Linked DNA regions of Homo sapiens: regions 1, 2 and 4 are each linked to region 3. A link means that fine-mapping ties the variant in region 3 to the plasma level of a protein whose gene starts in the linked region. Region 3 holds a variant in brackets. A gene starts in each other region. All regions are shown on their reverse strands.

Region 1 (5,121 bases), not on the chromosome of region 3:
GTAAAACAAGGTTCTGTACTAAGAATAAATGTTACGGTGGGGCTGATAGCTCAAGGAAAAAGGAAATAGTTAGGAAATAGCCTGATAAGGTAAACATAGCTGAAGGTCAAGGGAACTGAAGAGAATAGTGCAGTTAAAATGGTTGATAAAAGGGTTCTTGGGGGGCGGTGGCTCACCCCTGTAATCCCATCACTTTTAGGAGTTGAGATCAGCCTGGCCAACTTGGTGAAACCCCGTCTGTACTAAAAGTACAAAAAATTAGCCAGGCATGGTGGTGAGCACCTGTAATCTCAGCTACTTGGGAGGCTGAGGCAGGAGAATCACTTGAACCAGGGAGGCGGAGGTTGCGGTGAGCCAAGATCGTGCCATTGCACCCCAGCCTGGACAACAACAGCAAAACTCCGTCTCAAAAAAAAAAAGGGGGTTCTTACTGGTAAGTAAGATAAAAAATGATAGGAAACAGCTGATAAACTATGAGAAGAAAGACTGGCTGTCAGGCTGTCACATTGAGGACAAATTACAGATTCAATGGGAATGACCACAGAATAGAGATAGATGGGGGTAGGTGGCTGTAGGTACAGAGAGGGAAACTCACAATCCAGCATTTTGGAGGGGAAGTAATTTCATTGATGACTAGGTTGAAGGTGTGGCTCCATCTGTGGGTTGCTGATACAGAGTGAAGTTGAAGATGATTGGAAAAGAAAACGATGAGAAATTGTGAGGTCAGAGTGCTAATGAGTCATGAACATGGATGCTGAAATCATTAAGGTGATACAGAACATGAGGATAATTCCAGGGCTGACACAGAATTTCAGAAACATAACTGGGCACAGACAAGGAAGTAAAGGGATATCCTAGTCAGCACCAGATTTAGGGAATTAGAAATGCAGGCAAAGTTTGTCTTTGACATTTATCACCTTTGTTCCATGGCACAATTTCCTAAGCTTTGCTCACTTACTCCCAAGTAATTGTAATTTTGGTGCCTTCATGTTACTTTCTCACTGTACAGTTTCCTCAATCTCTTTTTTTTTTTTTTTTTTTTTTTGAGAAGGAGTTTTGCTCTGTCACCCAGGCTGGAGTGCAGTGGCAGGATCTCAGCTCACTGCAACCTCTGCCTCCTGGGTTCAAGTGATTCTCGTGCCTCAGCCTCCCAAGTAACTGGGATTACAGGCACCCACCACCATGCCTGGCTAATCTTTGTATTTTTAATAGAGTTGGGGTTTCACCAGGCTGGTCTTGAATTCCTGGCCTCAAGTGATCCGCCTGCCTCAGCCTCCCAAAATGCTGGGATTACAGGTGTGAGCCACTGCACCCGGCCTGCTCTTGACATATCTAAAATCTCAAATGGTCACAGGACACAAATGGAGAGTTCTCCATTAATATACTACTTTCCCCTACTTACCTTTGCATTTTGACAAGGCTTTCTAGTAACAAATCCTTAATCTGAAATTCGTAATTTCAAGGCCAATACTCTACAGAGGTATCTGCAAAGTCATGTAATTCCAGCACAGCAGAGGTCTTCCGTCCTGTTGCTCTGAAAAATACTTCTCCAATATTGATTCATCCTTTTGGCCTCAGACTTTAACTACTCCCATAAAATGTGAGTTTCTTGGGAGCAGGACCTGAGCTGAGCCAATAAAAAGACACCCATAAAAGCACTAACTCAGTCATTTGTTTTCCTAATGGTGCCAAGGCAGGCTGGTGTGTTGTGACATATCAATCCACTTCTGTGTACCTGCCCTTCCCCGTCCAGCAAAATATCATCATTTTTAATATATGTTGTGATACTAAAATATTTCAGAAGTGTTGACCGAGTAGACATTCAATAATGATTATAGCTGATACTTACAGAGCACCTACTATGTGCCAAACACTGTATGTATTTTAACTCATTTAATCCTTGCAACAATCCTGTTAGGTTGGTATTGTTATTCTCATTTTGCAGATGAAGAAATTTGAAAAGACTTGCCCAAGGTCACAGAGATGAGAAATAGAGGCATCAGCATTTAAACCTAGGCAATCTAGAACCAGAGGGTACATTTAACCACTATACATCTCCCCTAAATACATCTTTGCATCACACCTGTTATCTCAGCACTTTGGGAGGCCACTAAGGCCGGAGGATCGTTTGTTGCCAGCAGTTCAAGACCAGCCGGGTCAGCATACCAAAATCTTGTCTCTCCAAAAATTTTAAAAATTGGCCAGGTATTGTAGGGGCACCTGTAGTCTGAGATACTTGGGAGGTTGAGGTGGGAGGATCGCTAGAGCCCAGGAATTTGAACGTGCGGTGAGCATGATCCAGCCACTGCACTCCAGCCTGGGTGACAGAGTGAGACTGTGAACAACAACAAAAAAATCAAGTTTCCTGGATCTATACAAAATTTTCAATTTAACAAATTTTTATAAAAATTTGTTTTAAAATAAACACCCCTCTAAATGGCAAAGCTAGAACAGAATCTGGTCACAATCTATAGGTTAGATATAGGATGACAGGGAGGAGCAAGAGCTGAACACATCAGCTGCAGCACCATCTACTTTGCCTGCGACTCCGTTAGCAGGCCCACTTTGCCCTTTTATAAATTATCTGATCAACAACTAAGAGATTAAAATTCGATCTATGTTTTACTCTATCTGAATCCTCAATATAATGAAGAACTTTATAATTGTTAATTTATGGATATAATTTAAGTTCATTAAACCATTATTTCCTTCCTATATCCTCTCATTCTTCCACAAAAACCTCTACCTTTGGGTGTTTACTTTTACAGACACCCACGCACACACCCCACACGCACGCACGCACATGCCTTATCTTTTAACTCAAGATTCTCATCTTCCTTTGGGGAGAAACAAACATCATGAGCCTTGAGGTCCATTTTCTGAGGGAAAGGGGGGGGCGGAGGCGGGATGAATAGGTTTTTACCCGGTATTTTTTATCATAAACGGGGAGGTACAAACCGCAAAGAAACACTAGTCGCTTGGTGGGCCACCACCTCTGGGGCTCACTGATCAATCGCACCCAAACTCATTTACTAATTTAAAAAAGTACTGTGGCAAGGCTCGTTTACGTAAGTCTTGGAGAGAAGCCGCCGCCACAATCTGCCGCAGTCTCGTGCGGAGTCACGGCCACCGAGCTCTTCACTTTCCCCAAGAGGCTCCCACGCCTTCCCCATCCCCAAGGGAGCTAGGCGGTCCCTCGCGGCTCTGAGTCCCTCGGGGAAGGCCGCGAAGAGAGGCCGCAGGCGCCCTGGCGAGAAGGGAGGGCGGGGGCAGCGGGCGGCGGGCAGCACCCGGGCTCCAGTTCATGACCCCGTTATTCCACAGAAAAATGGAACATTCCGCTCTTTCCGCCCACAGAGGGGAGGTGGGGGGAACCCTTCGATCTAGTCTGGGAGAGGCGACGCGGACGCAGCCACCGGAATCCGGGACGCGAAGAGCCGCGTTACGGGAATCGCTACCCCTCGGAGTCCCGCCCCCTCGTCGACAGGCGGCCACTGGACCAATGCCTGGGCGCAAAGGGTCTCTCAGGGGCCAATCAGCGCCTAGGTCCCGGTAGGGGGCGGGGCGCAGCGTTGGCCGGCCGGGGGCGCAGCTGGGCGGGATTGGGGAGCGCCCCGCCCCGCCGCGGGACTGGGGTGGCGCGCTACCTCTGCGGAGAAGGATCTGACAGTGTTCCGGAGCCGGGGCGAGCAGCCAAAAGGCCCGCGGAGTCGCGCTGGGCCGCCCCGGCGCAGCTGAACCGGGGGCCGCGCCTGCCAGGCCGACGGGTCTGGCCCAGCCTGGCGCCAAGGGGTTCGTGCGCTGTGGAGACGCGGAGGGTCGAGGCGGCGCGGCCTGAGGTGAGGAGGGGCCGGGTGCTGGGTCGCGTAGCTGGAGTTAGAGTGTCGGTGGTTTCGGACGGGCTATCTGGCACTCGAGGAGACCTCCCTTCCCCCTGAGAGCAGCGCCCGGAACTTGTCAGCCCAGCCTGGAAATCCCCACATTCCTTCCCCTTCCTGCTCCCGGACCTCCGAATTCTACTTCCACAACTTTGTCACCTCGATTATCGCAGCCCTGAGTACAAACTTCACCCAGGCGCACGCACGCACCCCTCTTAACGCCCGCCCCGCAGAACGCCCTTCAAGAACAAACCCCCCTTTTTGTTACCAGATCCCACGTTTTTCCCAATCCCCTTTTCATCTCCCCTGAAATTCTATTCGCTCCGCACTTGTCTTCATTCTCGAGGTGGATTTCCCTTCCCCAAAGCCGTTTTTTCATCTTGAAATCGTAACGTTTCAGCTTTGTTGAAAGTTCACAATGCTTATAAACACTATTAACGTTTCTTTCCTTCTTTTGATCTTTTCTATTAATAATTATCATTCCTAACGAATTCCACATCTCACTGTATCCCAAGGAGAACAAATCAGTTTTTAAAATTTTACCTCCTCCGACCTAAACTTTTGAAGATAGTGCAGGAAGCAAGGGTCTGTTCTTCAGTGGATGAACAGCATTTTATTTCATAATCCGAAACTGAAAAAAAAAAAAAATCACAGGTTAAAAATAAGACGTCACCTTTTTTTTTTTTTTTTTTTTTTGCCTTCAGAAGGAAACGCATTTTGGCTTAGTTTGTGAAGTATTTCAACAATTATACTGCCTTAAAATAACTAGTTATTAGAATGCCAGGGTGAATTTTCTGAAAGATTGTGGTATTTGCTTTTGACAGTGCTGTAAACAAACCCTTTAAACTGTGTATGACTGCCAGCTTCAAGTTGGAACAACTCTTAATTTGAAATTACGGACTCAGATCATCAGTTTAGCTGTGTGCCATTATGTTAATTTCTTAAATTCATGTTAATTCCTATTTGGAAGTATTTTTGAACTATGAACTGAAATATTACATTTATAGAACCAACTTGCTATTAAATTGTGCTTTCCAACTATTTCTCTTTAGGGATAATCTTGAACGTTTGTTTTTAATCTTGAGTGAAAGAAAAAAATTACAGGAAGGAGAAAGTGTCAAAAAGGACAGACTGTAGTGGGATTTTTTTCTTATTTTAAGTATGTATTGACAATACCAGTTTAATTTTCTCACAGGCAATTTAGATTATTATAAATACTGCTGCCACCTAATTTAATATAATA
Region 2 (5,130 bases), not on the chromosome of region 3:
CCTCCTCCCGCATACCGAGAATGGAGCCCCTCAGCTCTTGGACAATGATGTGCAGGTCATCCACGTCCACAAAGTGCAGGTGCTTCTCGGCAGGGGCTGAGGCAGCGGCTGACAGCTCCAGGAAGTTGCCTCGGCCGGTGCTGACAATGAACACGGTGACGCCCAGGTCCTTGAGCTCCTGCATGGGGGGGCCCACAGGGTCGCTGGAGCCGCCATCTGTCACCCACACCAGCACTTTGGGCACCCCTGGCCGGGCACCTGATGCTTCAGCAAACAGCTGTTCCTTGGCATAGACCAGCGCCAGGCCAGTGTGGGTGTCACCCATGCGCTGGGCAGAAGCACGCACCGCATCCTGGGCAGCCTCACCCGAGCTGTGCTGGCCGAAGGGGAACTCGGTGTATGGCCGACTGCCCACGTGCACCAGACTGGCACGCAGGGCCCCGGTGCCCAGGGGCAGTGGAGCCACCAGCTGCCCCACAAACTCCCGAACCCGGGAGAACTCGTAGTGAGAGACGCTGGCTGAGCTGTCCAGCAGGAACATCAGGTCCCCTCGGGGGGCTGATGCTGGTGGACCTGGGGGAAAGGAGGAATGCTCAGCCTCAGGTGTGGGCCCCCCAGACAGCCCCACAGCAAGGCAGGGTCCCCCAGGGCCCCAGCTTTCCTTAAGTGGATGCTTGCCTTCTCCCAAAGGTCCTAGGTTGGGGGAAAGAGGAACTCTAAGCAAGAGGCCTGTACTTTTGGGGGTTTCACTGCACACTGGCCATGGGATCTAGGGCTCTCTCTGGGCTTGTGTTATCCCATCTGTGAGAGGGCGACTCTCCGCTCCAAGCCCCCACACCTTCCCATTCCTCACAGACCCTGCAAGCAGGTGGAGCCAAGAGTCCTGGCCTAGGCCCCCAGGACAGGCCTGAGCCGTGGGGCTGTTCCCTCCAGGCATGGCTTTCAGAGGAGCAGCCTGAGGCTGGAGTTCAGCCACGCAGCTCAGCCTGCAGGTGAGGCACCCTGGGCATGCACACAGCAGCAGGGGAAGGTGTCGGAGGCACAGCAATGACCACGCCGGATGGCCTGGCTGGAGCCCAGACCCCGCTTACTAGATGGTGGCCCCTCCCCTGGCCTCCATCCTCCAGCCCACCTGGACTCACACAACAAGATATAACCCCCAGCAGCCTGAAAGCCGGAACAGCCCCTCGCAGGCTTCCCCCTTCCTCCGGGCACCTCCGGGGTGGAGGCTGATGCCCCCTACACCGCCCCTCCCCACCAAGCCAGGGCACCAGCGTGCCTCAATTCTAGTCCCGGCCTTGCGGTTTTCCCCAGTGCGGTGGGGCGACTCCAACTTCCCTACCATCCCTCCACTAAGGGCCCTCGCAAGGGTAGGGAAACTGAGGCAGGGGTGCCCCCTTGACAGACATCTCCCTCTTCCTGTCCAGGCCCGCGATCCCGCAGAGATGCGGGCCGGGACGGCCCCTATGCCCCGGCGCTCACGGACGGTGTCGCCTGGAGCACCTGGGCCGCCAGCCTCAGGTGAGCAGGACGCTCCGCCCGCGCCCCCGCCCGGCTCCCGCAGCCTCCCAGCCCGCCCGCCCGTCCGGAGCAGGGGACAGCGACGGCCTTGCGCGGGCAGCGGCGCAGAGCGGTCACCAGAAGCCCCAGCCCCGGCCCGGCCGCCCGCCGCACTCACCGCGCTCCGCGCCGCTCCGCGCCAGCGCCAGCCGCAAGCTCAGGGCCAGGCCGAGCGCCGTCCAGGGGAGCATCGCGCGCGAGGGACGGGGCGCGCTCGGCAACTCGCTCGCTCGCTCGCTCGCTCGGGGCTGCAGGGCGCGTCACCGCGCGGACCAGGCCGGCCCCGCCCCCGGGAGGCCCCTCCCCGAGCGGCCACACCCACGCCGAGGCCACGCCCACGCCCTCCGGCGCGAGCGGAGGGCCACGCGCACAGACCCCGGAGAGGCGCGCACGAGCGGACCCCGACACGCAGGGACACGCAGCACCAGCCGAGATACGACCGAGGCACGCACGCGCAGGCACGCACACACACACACTCCAGTCTCCCTCTCCCGGCCGAGGCTGTGCGGCCCACGCTCTCCACCCCTCTCCGACCCCCAGCCGCGGGAGCCGAGCAGGGAGGTACCAGGCTAGGCCCTCCCCATGCCCACCACTGCCGTGACTCTGGGTGCTGGGGTCCCAGCAGCCAGGCCCAAGAGAACCCCAGGGGCTGGCGGTGGCACCAAAAAAACACGTCCAGACCGTGGTTTCGCCTTGGCCTCCGCGCTGGAGGCGGATAGGTGTCTGGAGTAACAGGACATGTATCCCAGGGACTGACCAGCAGGGATGGGAAGGACCATGGGGTGGAACTTACAAGGACACAGTGGCTTGAAAGGGGACAGAAGACAGGAATTCGAGAGAGACTCGAAGCACCCACGCCACCTGGGCTTCTTGGAGGAAGAGGCATGGGAGTGGGAGATGGTTGGTTGAGGCCCTGTCCAGTGGGACCACACTGGGCCTGTTACCCATATACCCTACCCAGTGAGGGGCCCAGACTCCAGGACCCAGGACACACCCCCAGCAGGACTGGAGGGTCCCACTGGTGAGACAGGAGCTCTTGAGTCTTGGGGTCTTGGTGAGGCCCAGACGAGAGGTGGCTGGTTGCAGGGGGCGTCCTGAGGGACAGTGGCTCCCAGGGCAGATTTCCCCTGCTTGGGTGGGGCTGGGCCAGCAGTGTCCCCTGGACAGGAGAACCCTACCCCGGCCCTCCCTCGGAGTAGCCATGGCCCTCTTCCAGGGCCTCCTCAGCTCAGAGCTGGGAGGTGGGGGACGTGGGGGGGTGTCTGCCAGGATGTCTCCTCCTTCCCCACCCTCTCCTGGAGGATGCGCCGCGGGAGAACGGATGGGGCTCCACAGGCTTCCTTCCTCCCTTTCAGGCAGGTGAGACACCGCGGGGCCGTGCGGACGGCCAGCACTCGACTTTGCCTAAAAAAGGAAGCAGCAGGCTGAGGCTGAGGAGCTGGCGGCAGGAACAAGGGAGAGCTGTGTCCCCGCCGGCGCCCCCCACCCCCCCTGCCGGGGATCTTGGCAGTGGAGGTGCTGGCTGCGCTCCACAGACCTCAGACCTCGGCTGGGACCAGAAATGCCTGGTGCTTCCGCCTGGGCCCGGTGGGGGGACTTTGGGTCCCCAGAGTGCAAGCTGTACCACTTCGAGGGGCCTCGCCAGGCCCCCCAGCCCCCAGTACACAGGGGCTGCCGTGGAGATGACGCTGAAGGCCGCAGCCGCTGGAGGACCTGGGGTCTGACCGGAAGCTGGCTGCAGACCCTGCGGAGGCACGTCCAGGTAGTCAGGCAGGGAGCTGGGCCGAGGGTCCCCCACCCTGGGGAGGCTCACAGCCAGTGGCCCGCTTGTCCCCCACCCTCGCCCAGCAGGCGGGCCACAGTCACACCTCAGCCAGCCTTGCAGGGCTGACGGGGAAGTTTCCCTCACTTCTGGAAAAAGTGAGCGGGTCTTCTTGGCTGTGACTCAGGCCCTCAAGGAAGCGGCCGCCCTCCTCCCTTCAGCTCGCCATCAGCGGGAGAAGGCACAGGAGGCCTGGCCTCCACCCAGCCTGGGCCGAGCTCAGCCACCTGCCTTGCTCCCGGCTCTGCCTGGAGTCCCTCCAGCTAGGAGACCCTCCCCATCAGCTCTCCCCGTGCCCCTCAGTCTTCAGGACTCATTCTTGTGTCCTGCCCTCCCCCCGCTGTCTCCACCCCGGAGGAGGGACGTGGACAGAGGGTCCCAGAGAGCATGGGGTCAGCCAGAGGTGCAGTGTCAGGGCCCGGGCCGGACTTGAGGCAGACACCGGAGGAAGCACAAATATAACAGCCGGAACCCTCCACTCTCCAGGGAGAAGGGCCCGGGGTAAGAGGCAGAGGCAAGGACGGGTCAGGCCAGATCACAGTGGGTGCTGGCCCCGAGCCCTCTGCCTCCTGCAGGCACAGCCCCTGTCTGATCCTGGTGGCCTGGGGCCCCATGGGGTGGGGAGCAGCCTGGTTTGGCTGCGGCCACCCCGCCCCCACGGTCTGGGCCTGGGCTGTGGGAGTCCCTGTGCCTCACTTCCCGGAGCCAGCCTGCCCTGCCGGTCTGTCTGCAGGCAGGTGGAGAGAGTTCCAGGAAGCTGGGGAGGCTGCTGTCACCCGGGCACCGCCCCTGCCCCCACCCGCCTTTGGGAATGCTCCCTCCTCCGCACAATCCAGGCTTCTGCAGAAGATGAAGGGCCTTTTGTCCCCAGCTGGCTGTGGTCATGTTTGACCCTGGGTAAAAGGGCAACTCCTGAGGCCTCTGACCCCACCCCTGACCCGAGCTGAGGGCAGGACGCCCAGGCCCGCACCCGGCGCCTTTTGTTGCTGTTTTCACGTATCTCACAAACGTACTCAAGCACACACAGGAGCAGATGGACGGGGCGGTGAGGGGCAGCAGTGGTGAGGGGCAGCGGCGGTGAGGGGCAGCGGCGGTGAGGGGCAGCGGTGCGGGCCTGAGGCACTGCTCTGGGGTGTGCCTGAGCCCACCCCACAACAGTAAGTGGGGCAGAGCAGGGGTCACCAAGAGAGCAGGGCCCACGCAGCTCCTAGACTCAACCTGCTCACTGGGGTCAAGGACAGGTCTTGGGGGCCTCGGGGGTCACTTTTCACTTCCCAGGAGCCCAGGCCTGCCCCTCTGGCCCCAGAGCTGACCCCCCTCAGTCCCCCGTGCCAGCAGCAGCTGGGGTGGCGGGTAGACACCTGGCGGGTAGCAGCCTGGGTAGGGGTGGGAGCTGCACCATCTGCGTCTGTCCATCCATCCCTCGTCTGTGTGCTGGGCACAGCCGCGCCCCAGCCTCAGTGCTGGGGACACACAGGCGCCGGGCCAGCACTGCCAGGCTAGGAGGGTGGGCGGTGAACAGCTAGGAAAGATACGGTCTACTTGTTTTCCCTGTGAGAACAGGGGGTCACTGGGGACTCGCACGCAAGGGGTACCCGAGGAAGAGCCTTCCAGGCAGAGAGAAGGAACCGCGAGTGCTGAGAGCAGGGTGGGGTGGGCAGGAGGGGCCTGCGCCAGGACTGCAGGGGCAGAGCAGGCTGGGGGCCTTCGGGAGGGGTGGCCGGGTGGAGGGTGTTGCCGGCCTCGAC
Region 3 (5,148 bases):
TTTTTTTTTTTTTTTTTTTTTGAGACAGAGTCTCACTCTGTTGCCCAGGCTGGAGTGCAGTGGCACAATCTCGGCTCACTGTGATACCTCCACCTCCCGGGTTCAAGTGATTCTCCTGCTTCTGCCTCCCAAGTAGCTGGGATTACAGATGAGCACCACCTCACCCAGCTGATTTTTGTATTTTTAGTAGAGACGGGTTTTACCACATTGGCCAGGCTGGTCTTGAACTCCTGACCTCAGGTGATCCGCCCACCTCGGCCTTCCAAAGTGCTGGGATTATAGGTGTGAGCCACCGCACCCAGCTTCTTCAACAAATATTAAGTGAACACCTATTCCCTGCCAGAAACCATTCTGAGTACTGAAATATAACTTAATAAATCATGCCCAAATCCCTGCCCTCAAGGAGTGTATGTTGTAAATATTTCAAAAGGCATACAATGAAAGGAACCTTTTCAATTTTGTGTAAGTTAGTGTCTTTCAGTCTTATTTGACTTTGGAACTCCTTTTTCTGTGAACACCCCCAAAAACACTATTCAAAGGAATACCATTATTGAAACACAGTTTGTTTCCATCTTTCTAAATTAAAGGTTAATTCTTGCCTTTTAAGTACTTTTTGCCTCTTAAGGATGTTTTTCTCCAGTTTGTCACATAAATTTTGAAATACTTTTCTTGTGTATATGTAGGAGAAAAATATATATATTCCTATTTCTTTAAATATTTGAGTATTTATATATGTAATAAATGCATACATATAAATATGTATATATACACATGCAATATATGATACATATTTAGGTACAGTACAAATATGAGGTTTTGCATTTTGCTGTATGCATTATGTATCCTTTAGTGCCACCTCATCTAACATTTTCTCCGTGGAGTCTTTCTTGACTACTTGTGGTAGAATTAATCTCTCATTTATCTTTATGCCCCAGTAACACAATGTGTGCACTTCTATTTACAGTACTTCCTGTATTTATAATTATTTATTCCCCATTTTCCAGCCTAGAATAAATTCTTCAATGTCACAGAAGGACCAAGGTCACATCTTTGTATTGCTGGGATCTTTTTTTTTATTTATTTATTTTTATTTATTTATTTTTTTTGAGACTGAGTCTCCCTCTGTCGCCCAGGCTGGAGTGCAGTGGTGCGATCTCAGCTCACTGCAAGCTCCGCCTCCCGGGTTCACGCCATTCTCCTGCCTCAGCCTCCCAAGTAGCTGGGACTACAGGCGCCTGCCACCACATCCGGCTATTTTTTTTTTTTTTTTGTATTTTTCAGTAGAGACAGGGTTTCACCGTGTTAGCCAGGATGGTCTCGATCTCCTGACCTTGTGATCCGCCCGCCTTGGCCTCCCAAAGTGCTGGAATTACAGGCATGAGCCACCGCGCCCGGCCTGTATTGCTGTGATCTTAAAGCCTGGCCTATAGTAGGTGCTTGATAAGTATTTGTTGAATTGAGTTCAATAAATACCATGAAAATTAATTTCAGGTTTATGACTTTGATGTTCTTAATTTAGACTGTAGCTTTATAAGCTTTATAATCATACTAAAGATGTTTTACATTTTTCCGTAGGTTACAGTGTACAGCATGTATGTTTCTATAATGGCTTTCAATGCAAAGGTTAGTGATCCACTTATTGGAGGAACATACATGACCCTTTTAAATACCGTGTCCAATCTGGGAGGAAACTGGCCTTCTACAGTAGCTCTTTGGCTTGTAGATCCCCTCACAGTAAAAGAGTGTGTAGGAGCATCAAACCAGAATTGTCGAACACCTGATGCTGTTGAGGTAAGTATGTTTTAATTTTAGATAACATTAAGCTAATACTAAGATATTAATATCTTTGTTTTGTCTCTAGAAGTACTATATCTTTTTTAAAAATCATATCTGTCCATAGGTTCTGGTTTAGAAATCTACATATATATTTTCTTTCACATCAAGGCTGAGGGTTATAATCATTCAAATCAGCAAGACTAGTTCCCTTAAAGGCGTTTCTCAGTAAAGGAGAGGCGATCTCTCTTTCCCCCACCTTGACGATCACTGTCCTACACAGCAGGCACTATATAAATGCATAATTAATAGCTTAAGTTTTGTAGTGATAGAAAAAGGGAATGTCCATTGGCTATTCCTATAACAGTGATAACTAAACCTGTATAGTGAGTGGTTTGTTGATAAATTCTTTCAAAGTGGTATTTGTCTACTTCTAGAGTAGATGGACTGGAAATTTCTTCACATTTCCGAATGTGAAAGCTGCATCGTGAAAATAGATAATCGGGCCAGGTGCAGTGGCTCACGCCTGTATTCTTAGCACTTTGGGAGGCTAAGGCGGGTGGATTGCCTGAGCTCAGGAGTTTGACACCAGCCTGGGCAACACGGTGAAACCCCATCTCTACTAAAATACAAAAAATTAGCCGGGCGGGGTGGTGTGTGCCTGTAGTCCCAACTACTCAGGAGGCTGAGACAGGAGAATTGCTAGAACTGGGAGGCGGAGGTTGCAGTGAGCTGAGATCGCGCCCCTGTACTCCAGCCTGGGCGACAGAACAAGACTCCGTCTCTTAAAAAAAAAAAAAAAAAAAAAACATATTCGGCTGGGTATGGTGGCTCACACCCGTAATTCCAGCATTTTGAGAGGCTGAAGCAGGCAGATTGCTTGAGCCCAGGAGTTCAAGACCACCCTGGGCCACATGGTGAAGCACCATCTCTACAAAAAATGTAGAAATTAATGGGGCATGGTGGTGCACGCCTGTGGTCTTATCTACTCACAAGGCTGAGGTGGGAGGATTGCTTGAGCCCAGGAGCCAGAGACCGCAGTGAGCCATTATCACACCACTGCATTTCAGCCGGGGCCACAAGTGAGACCGTGTCTCAAAAAAGAAAATGAGTATTGTTTACAGCAAGAACTGAAAATTGTTTTTAATCCTGTTAGTAGCATTAGAGAGATTAAGATACATTAACATATTTTGTCATTGGAATTCAGTGAAATACTGAAATGTTTTAAGAAAAATATATTTTTATTCTTTATAAAGTAGAAGCATGTTAATTGCTAAATACTTTCATTTTGAAATTGTGGAGTATTTATTATAGTTTTATTTTTACAGCTTTGCAAAAAACTGGGTGGCTCATGTGTTACAGCCCTGGAT[G/A]GTTATTATGTGGAGTCCATTATTTGTGTTTTCATTGGATTTGGTTGGTGGTTCTTTCTTGGTCCAAAATTTAAAAAGTTACAGGATGAAGGATCATCTTCGTGGAAATGCAAAAGGAACAATTAATATATATGCTACTGGACATTCTAGCAAGGTAATTGTAGTTTAGTTTTAATTCGGAGAGCAATGATAATCAGTGCACAGGAGTATAAAATATTATTTTAAACAGCGAAATTAATAATATAAAATGCCAAATGGTTGAAAAAATAGAAACCTTTCTGTATATTTGATCATATTTTTTTTTTGCCTTGTCAATGTATTTAAAGTTTACTTAAGGTCAGGAAATTCTAAAACAACTTTTCTGGCCTTGTTATTTGATGTATATCTTTTAAATTTACTGACCAAAGCATGTTTTAAGCTGCAATGCAGTAGTCACGGGTGGTAACCATGTAGTCAGGTATTGTTATTAGTACCTATCACTGCTGAGCTGTATTTAAAATTTTGGTACAATATATAAAATGGAGAAGAGCTTGATATTCAGGTACTAACCACAACTAGTCTGACATTGTTGGCAGTTAAAATCTTATTTTGAATTGTAAATTAGTTAAATTTTATGTGGAATTTGCTGAGAAAAGAATATAGACTACTGAAATGTCATTTTAGTTATTTTTCTTATGACCACATTGTACAAATGAATCTGTGTTAAAAAGACTATTTTAAATGTATTTCCTGCTTTTGTAAGCATTAAAGATTTATAAGAAAATTATTCAAACTATTTTTTATAAAATGAAAGTTATGATTTTTAAACTTATTGATTCCTCTTGCCCCTACCCCCTCTTTTTGGAAGATATTTTGATTCCTTATAAACTTTTACCCTAAGCTTATATATGTTTTCTGTCACAAGTGCTTCCTGGCACACAGACAGCCAATGGAGGGGATCAAATTCAGTGTTGTATGTATGTTTATGGCAACATTTTGAAAATAAAAATTAAATGTTTTTCTTCAAGTAGTTTTTTTTTAATTGCTGAGAGAAAAAAACAGTAAAGCTTTCTGATTAAGTAAAATTTAAATGGGCAGTACCATAATTTAAAAAACTAATACTTTAAAGAGAGAGACAAAGATATTTTGTGCCTTTGACAAATTAAATCTAATAGTGGAAAAATGTTTCTTAATTAAGCACTTTACTAGTGAAAAAGATCTCACAATTTATGCCAAATCAGGTACTGTATTTTCATGTATTAACACATAACCTTTTGTTTGAATACTATAGTTTTCAGTGGACAGTTGCTATTCCAAGAAAATTAAGCTTTTGAGTACTTTAGCAATTCCCAGCGTATTACATACACCCAGTGATAAGGTTCTTTGCATGTTTTGTGTTATGTATTACTCTGACTCTTTAGAGATTATATAAATCCTCCAAAAGTTAGACGAAACAAGATAGTACATTATGAGTCTTAATTTTATCATTGTGGAAAAATGTGTACTAACTCCTGATTTTGTTAATTTTATAACATAGGTTGAATTTTAGAGTGGGGTTTTTATAAGTAATGGAGGATAAAATGGGTGGGAGAAAATGGCACACAGCACCTGAAGAAAGATGGGGCAGTGACCTCTAGAACTCATGCATTGCCATTGGAAAGCCTGTGTTGGGCATCGATGTCAGATCCTGAAGAATCACCTGGAAAAAATCCCATCCTAGAGGCAAGGAGGCTACACCAAACCATACACTACAGTACTTTGTCACATGGTTGTCCATTATCATGTATTAGAGTCTAAATGATTACTTGAATAAAGAAAAAAAACCACTTAACTCTTACATATGAAATGTGTTTTGATTTTTAATTTTTGGATTAAGAAACTCAGATTGCCATAATAACCTTTTATTTCTTCCCGTGTATATTATTACAAATTATATATACTTTCAAACATAGTTTTTTTTTTTTTTAATTGAGACAGAGTCTCACTTTGTCACCCAGGCTGGAGTACAGTGGTGCAATCTCGGCTC
Region 4 (5,148 bases), not on the chromosome of region 3:
CAGCTAGAAGTGTCATTTTGGATGATCAGTCATGTGAGTGAGAAAGTTATCTTGGACAAATAGTCCAATCTAGTCTTGAGATAGCCACTGTCACTGGGTGAGAGCTACCCAGCTGAACACTGTCATCCCAGGGAATCATGAAAAGTACATTGACATTGTTCAGGCACTAGGTTTTGGGGTGGTTTGTGATGCAGTGAAACAGTTCCCCTCTAGGTCTGTTCTGCAGTTTTCTTTGTGAAATTTTTCTTCCCTGGAGTTAGATGTCATGTTTTCTGGACCCCATGACTTTCTGTTTCCTGGTTATTTCTCCCGTTTTGCTACAGATTTCTCTTCCATAACTTCTAGGAAAGGAAGTATAGTAAGTAAATTTTGAATCTATGTCCAAAAAGGCCTTTATTATGATCTTACATTTGAGAAATAGATTGTCTGCGAGTAGGATTCTAGGTTGAAATTAAATTTCTCCTCTGGATTTTTTTTTTTTTTTTTGGACACAGGTTCTCTGTCTGTTTTCCAGGCTGGAGTGCAGTGGCACAATCTCAGCTCACTACAACCTTCACCTCCCGGGCTCAAGCAATCCTCCCACCTCAGCCTCTGGAGTAGCTAGGACCACAGGTGCGCATCACCACACTCGGCCAATTTTTTGTATTTTTGGCAGATATAGATTTTCTTTTCCTCTTTTTTTTTTTTTTTTTGATGGAGTCTCCTTCTGTCACCCAGGCTGGAGTGCAGTAGCATGATCTCAGCTCACTGCAACATCTGCCTCCTGGGTTCAAGTGATTCTCCTGCCTCAGCCTCCCAAGTAGCTAGGATTACAGGCATGCACCACCACACCCAGCTAATTTTTGTATTTTTAGTAGCGACCAGTTTTGCCATGTTGCTGGGACTTGTCTTGAACTCCTGACCTCAAATGATCTGCCCGTCTTGGCCTCCCAAAGTGCTGGGATTACAGGCGTGAGCCGCCACGCCCGGCTGATACAGGTTTTTACCATGTTGCCCAGGCTATTCTGGAACTCCTGGACTCAAGTGATCCACCCACTTTGGCCTCTTAAAATGCTGGGATTACAGATGTGAGCCACCACACTCGGCCTTCCCTCTGAATTTTGAAGGCATTCGTGCATTATTTTCTAGCTTTGTTGTTTGGAACAACAATGCCATTCTATTTCCAAATCCATTCAGTGCAATATGTTGTTCTTTCTCTCTGGAGTCTTTTCGTATCTTTTCTTTATGTCTGATGTTCTCATATTACATGATAATGTCTTGCTTTTTGGGGATATTTTTATTCATTGAGTTTAGCATTTGATTGACCCGCTCAATACTGAGAGTCATCTCCTTTAGTTACGAGAGTCTTTCCTTTATTATTTCTTTAGTAATTTCCTCTCCTCTATTTTCTTTTTTAATGTTCTGAAACAATCCTAGTCCTTTGACTTTGTAGATGGTTATAATTTCTAACAAATTTTCTTAACTTTATTTTTCAAAACTTCCATAAAATTCGGGACATTTTTATAATGTCTATGTTCTTTTTCATGAATGTAAAATCTTTCTTTCTGAGAAAATATTAGCTTTTTAAAAAGTTTTTGAAGTTCTCTTTAGCTCTCCCTGTTATTTTTGTCTCTTTTTTATGTTAAATGCTTTCCTCAAATGTCTGATGATCCCTGGTTATCTGTTCATATCTGAAAGGGACACTAAAGACTCATTAACAGTTCTGCATGCATGGCTGAGGCTCATGCACTGATGAACTTATTGAAGGAGGGTTGAGTGGTTTTGTTGGGGAACACTCAAAACTATAAATATCTGAAAATGTTTTATTGGGACCACTTAGTTTATCCAGAGATTAAATCCTCCAGTTTCCTGGGATAGAATGGGGAAAGGATCCCTTGGTTCTGTGGGCATTCAGTGGGAAGATTCACTCTGAATCCCGTTATTTTCATCCCTGCTCATGTTAGTCTGGCTTCTCTGGGTCTAGAACCTCACCTGATATTTAGATTTTTCACTGATACCTTCAGTAGAAGCAATGTTGAATGTTTGAGGTTTGCTGGCTGTTTACAATCAATTAAGGATTTTTAAAAATCTAGAACATTTGTGAATTCTTATATTTTCTTCCTGGTACTAAGTAGGAGCTAGCCACAGGTAGGCCTCATCATATGGATACATTACCCAAACGGTCACAGGTCAAAGGACAATGTAGTGATTAACCATAAGCTTTGGAATCAGGAAGTTCTGGGCTTCAGTGTCTTCCTAAAACTTAAAAAAAAATTTAATTTTTTTATTAAACTTTTTTTTAAATAAAAAATTGAGATGGGGTTTCGCCATGTTGATCAGGCTGGTCTCAAACTCCTGGCCTCAAGCGATCCTCCCATCTCGGCCTCCCTAAGTGCTAGGATTACAGGTGTGAGCCACTGTGCCTGTCCTCACTTTTCTTTCTCCATTATTAGGGCAAGGAGGCCAGGGGACAGGGTGAGGGAGAACCTAGAATGGGAATGGAGGCAACTTTCAGTCTAACTATGCTTTGGCCCCATGAGGAATCTACATGTAAACACTTGCCAGTATGGAGAGTCAATTGCACTTTGTGACAGGCTGTACAGCAGTTGGGACAACTGTGGCACATGCACAGGTTATACAGGCATATTTGCACCAGCACATGCATGGATGCTTGTGCACATATAGGAAACCCACTATACACATGGACAAAGAAGCACAAGTATGTCCACGCCATCCCTCCACACACACACTAGTCACCAGGAGAAAAGGGCTCAGCACATTTCATCATGCATCGCCCATTGGGGGAAGCCATGTAGGACAGGAGAAAGGGAAGATTATGAGGCAAAAAGAGAAATGAAACTAAAGAGTCCCACCCTGTCAGCATTAACTGGGATATAAGAGGTTGGGCTTTGGATAGATAGACAGACTCCTGGGTCCGGTCAACCGTCAAAATGTCCAAAGAACCTCTCATTCTCTGGCTGATGATTGAGTTTTGGTGGCTTTACCTGAGTAAGTGTTCTGAAACCTTCTATGTAGAAGTTTCCAGAGGACTTGCTATTGTGTGATGGATTTCCATGCACTGGTTTGGGCCTCAGTGAAGCAGAAGCTCACTTCATTTCTGCATCCCTCCCCTCTCCCTACCAGGCTTCCTTCTGTGGAGGGTCTCTGTCCTGCCTTGTTACACAGAGGTTTATCCAGAGACTGGTCTGGGGGTTTTAGGCTGGGGTAATTTGGGCTTATATTGGAAACAGCAACTGAAGAAGAGACACAGAAATAAGTGGTCAGATAAATTGGGGAAAAGAGATTTCCTCTATGGGTGTTATTCATATAATCAATAAGCCAGGAGAATTTGTTCTGGTGAGAATTGTGATAATTCTTATCATTCCCTCTGTTTTTAGAAGTGTTTGCTTTTTGTTTTGTTTTGCTGGGGTGAGGCTTTATGTAAGGTTTCTTTTCTGCACGTTGTTTTTGGGTTTTGGATGATGCAAGTGTACACACTCAGTTTTGGCCAGTGAAGTTCTTTGCATCCTGGTGGTATAGAGCCAAGTGTTCTGGCCTGAGCTGCAGCTGCGTCTCGGGCACTAACTGTTGACACTGGGAATATGTCTAAATTGCTCTGGCTCTCCCATATTTGAAATGAGAGACCTGGCTTTTTAAATGACCAGTTGTCACAATCTGTGCTTCTAGGACAAGATAATATTGAATGGCCCTTGCAGTTTTACAAAAGTCCATTTTTTTTTTAAATGGATACAAAATAACTATACATATTTATGGGCTACATATGTGTTATTTTGATATATACATACAATGTACAATGATCGAATCAGGGTAGTTGGGATATTCATTTCTTGAAACATTTAAATTTCTTTGTGCTGAGAACATTTCAAATGTTCTCTTCTAGTTATTTTGAAATACACAAGAAATTATTAATAACAATAGGCACCCCACTATGCTATCAAACACTAGGACTTATTCCTTCTATTTAATTGTATTTTTTCCCTTTTTCCTCATGTTCTAACTAACTGTATTTTTGTACCCATTAACCTGCCTTTCTTCATACCCCTTTTCCCCTATCCTTTGTAGACTCCAGTGACTATCATTCTATTCTCCACTTTCATGAGATCAACTTTTTTAGCTCTCATGTATGAGTGGGAACATGCAATATTTGTCTTTCTGTGCCTAGCTTAACTTAACACAATATTAATAAACTCTGTTTCCATCCATGTTGTTGCAAATGACTGAGTTTCATTCTTTTTTTATGGCTGAATATTCTACTGTGTTTATATACCACATTTTCTTTTTTTTTTTCTTTCTTTTTTTTTTTTTTTTTTTTTTTTTTTTGAGACGGAGTCTCGCTCTTTTGCCTAGGCCGGACTGCAGTGGCACTATCTCTATCTCGGCTCACTGCAAGCTCTGCCTCCTGGGTCCACGCCATTCTCCTGCCTCAGCCTCCCAAGTAGCTGGGACTATGGGCGCCTGCCACCATGCCTGGCTAATTTTTGTATTTTTAGTAGAGACGGGGTTTCACCATATTGGTCAGGCTGGTCTTGAACTCCTGACCTCAGGCGATCCACTCACCTCGGCCTCCCAAAGTGCTGGGCTTATAGGCGTGAGTCACCGCACCTGGCCATATACCACATTTTCTTTATCCATTCATCCATTGATGGACACGTAGGTTGCTTCTATATCTTGGCTATCGTGCATAGTGCTGTAATAAACATGGGAGAGTAAATATCTCTTTAATTGATTTCCTTTCTTTGGGATATATCCCCAGTAGTGGGATTGTTGGATCATATGGTAATTCTATTTTTAGTTTTTTAAGGAATCACCATACTGTTTCCCATAATGGCTGTAGTAATTTACATTCCCACCAACAGCGTACGAGAGTTCCTCTTTCTTTGCGTCCTCGCCAGCAATGCTTGCTTTTTGTCTTTTTGATAGTAGCCATTTTATCAGAAATGAAGTGATACCTCATTGTGGTTTGGATTTGCATTTCCCCAGTGATTAGCAATGTTAAACATTTTTTCTTCTACCTCTTGGCTCTTTGTATGTGCAGAAACCTTTCCAACATGGTGCATGAGAAAACACCCATATTTGAAGGAAAACAAATGTGTTTCATCACCTCTCAAACTTGTACTATTCTCTCTGCCTTTCTTTCCTCCGTAGTGC

Alleles and levels. Alleles are on the strand shown, and positions count from the first base shown. The strength of an association depends on the size of the effect and on how common the allele is.
In carriers of allele A in region 3, the plasma level of the protein whose gene starts at base 3,660 in region 1 tends to be higher than with G alone (weak association).
For the plasma level of the protein whose gene starts at base 1,810 in region 2, G is the low allele of the variant in region 3 and A is the other (weak association).
For the plasma level of the protein whose gene starts at base 2,903 in region 4, G is the high allele of the variant in region 3 and A is the other (weak association).

The links. PIP is the posterior inclusion probability: the model's chance that the variant is causal. The UK Biobank Pharma Proteomics Project read protein levels with antibody pairs (Olink). The fine-mapping took linkage between variants from a reference panel, not from the people measured, so its PIPs are less certain.
Region 1: IL6ST starts here. The variant in region 3 is fine-mapped to the plasma level of the IL6ST protein (UK Biobank, PIP above 0.99).
Region 2: it holds the start of VWA1, and the variant in region 3 is fine-mapped to the plasma level of the VWA1 protein (UK Biobank, PIP above 0.99).
Region 4: TIMD4 starts here. The variant in region 3 is fine-mapped to the plasma level of the TIMD4 protein (UK Biobank, PIP above 0.99).

The regions. Positions count from the first base shown.
Region 1 is chr5:55,993,502-55,998,622 of GRCh38, reverse strand. It overlaps IL6ST (interleukin 6 cytokine family signal transducer), which reads left to right and starts at 3,660. Exons shown (of 17, transcript NM_002184.4): 1 at 3,660-3,839. IL6ST-DT (IL6ST divergent transcript) reads right to left here and starts at 3,456. Exons shown (of 2, transcript NR_102755.1): 1 at 3,069-3,456. RefSeq lists an enhancer at 3,107-3,618, cis regulatory regions at 3,207-3,880, 2,574-4,892 and a silencer at 3,450-3,929.
Region 2 is chr1:1,432,370-1,437,499 of GRCh38, reverse strand. VWA1 (von Willebrand factor A domain containing 1) reads right to left here and starts at 1,810. Exons shown (of 3, transcript NM_022834.5): 1 at 1,679-1,810; 2 at 16-573. The coding sequence starts at 1,751. It overlaps LOC107985729, which reads right to left and starts at 4,267. Exons shown (of 4, transcript XM_017003066.2): 1 at 4,212-4,267; 2 at 3,429-3,537; 3 at 3,098-3,304; 4 at 1,951-2,964. The coding sequence starts at 4,267. The coding sequence ends at 2,350. It overlaps LINC01770 (long intergenic non-protein coding RNA 1770), which reads left to right and starts at 2,927. Exons shown (of 2, transcript NR_125996.1): 1 at 2,927-3,312. RefSeq lists silencers at 1,693-1,882, 1,641-2,010, 2,757-3,051 and enhancers at 2,837-2,896, 2,156-2,899, 4,388-5,130.
Region 3 is chr3:155,826,331-155,831,478 of GRCh38, reverse strand. It overlaps SLC33A1 (solute carrier family 33 member 1), which reads left to right. Exons shown (of 6, transcript NM_004733.4): 5 at 1,576-1,791; 6 at 3,102-5,148. The coding sequence ends at 3,269. Among named protein-coding and RNA genes, the nearest start is that of C3orf33, 23 kb to the right of the region's middle. The variant G/A (reference allele first, on the strand shown) is at 3,144.
Region 4 is chr5:156,960,981-156,966,128 of GRCh38, reverse strand. TIMD4 (T cell immunoglobulin and mucin domain containing 4) reads left to right here and starts at 2,903. Exons shown (of 9, transcript NM_138379.3): 1 at 2,903-2,988. The coding sequence starts at 2,931.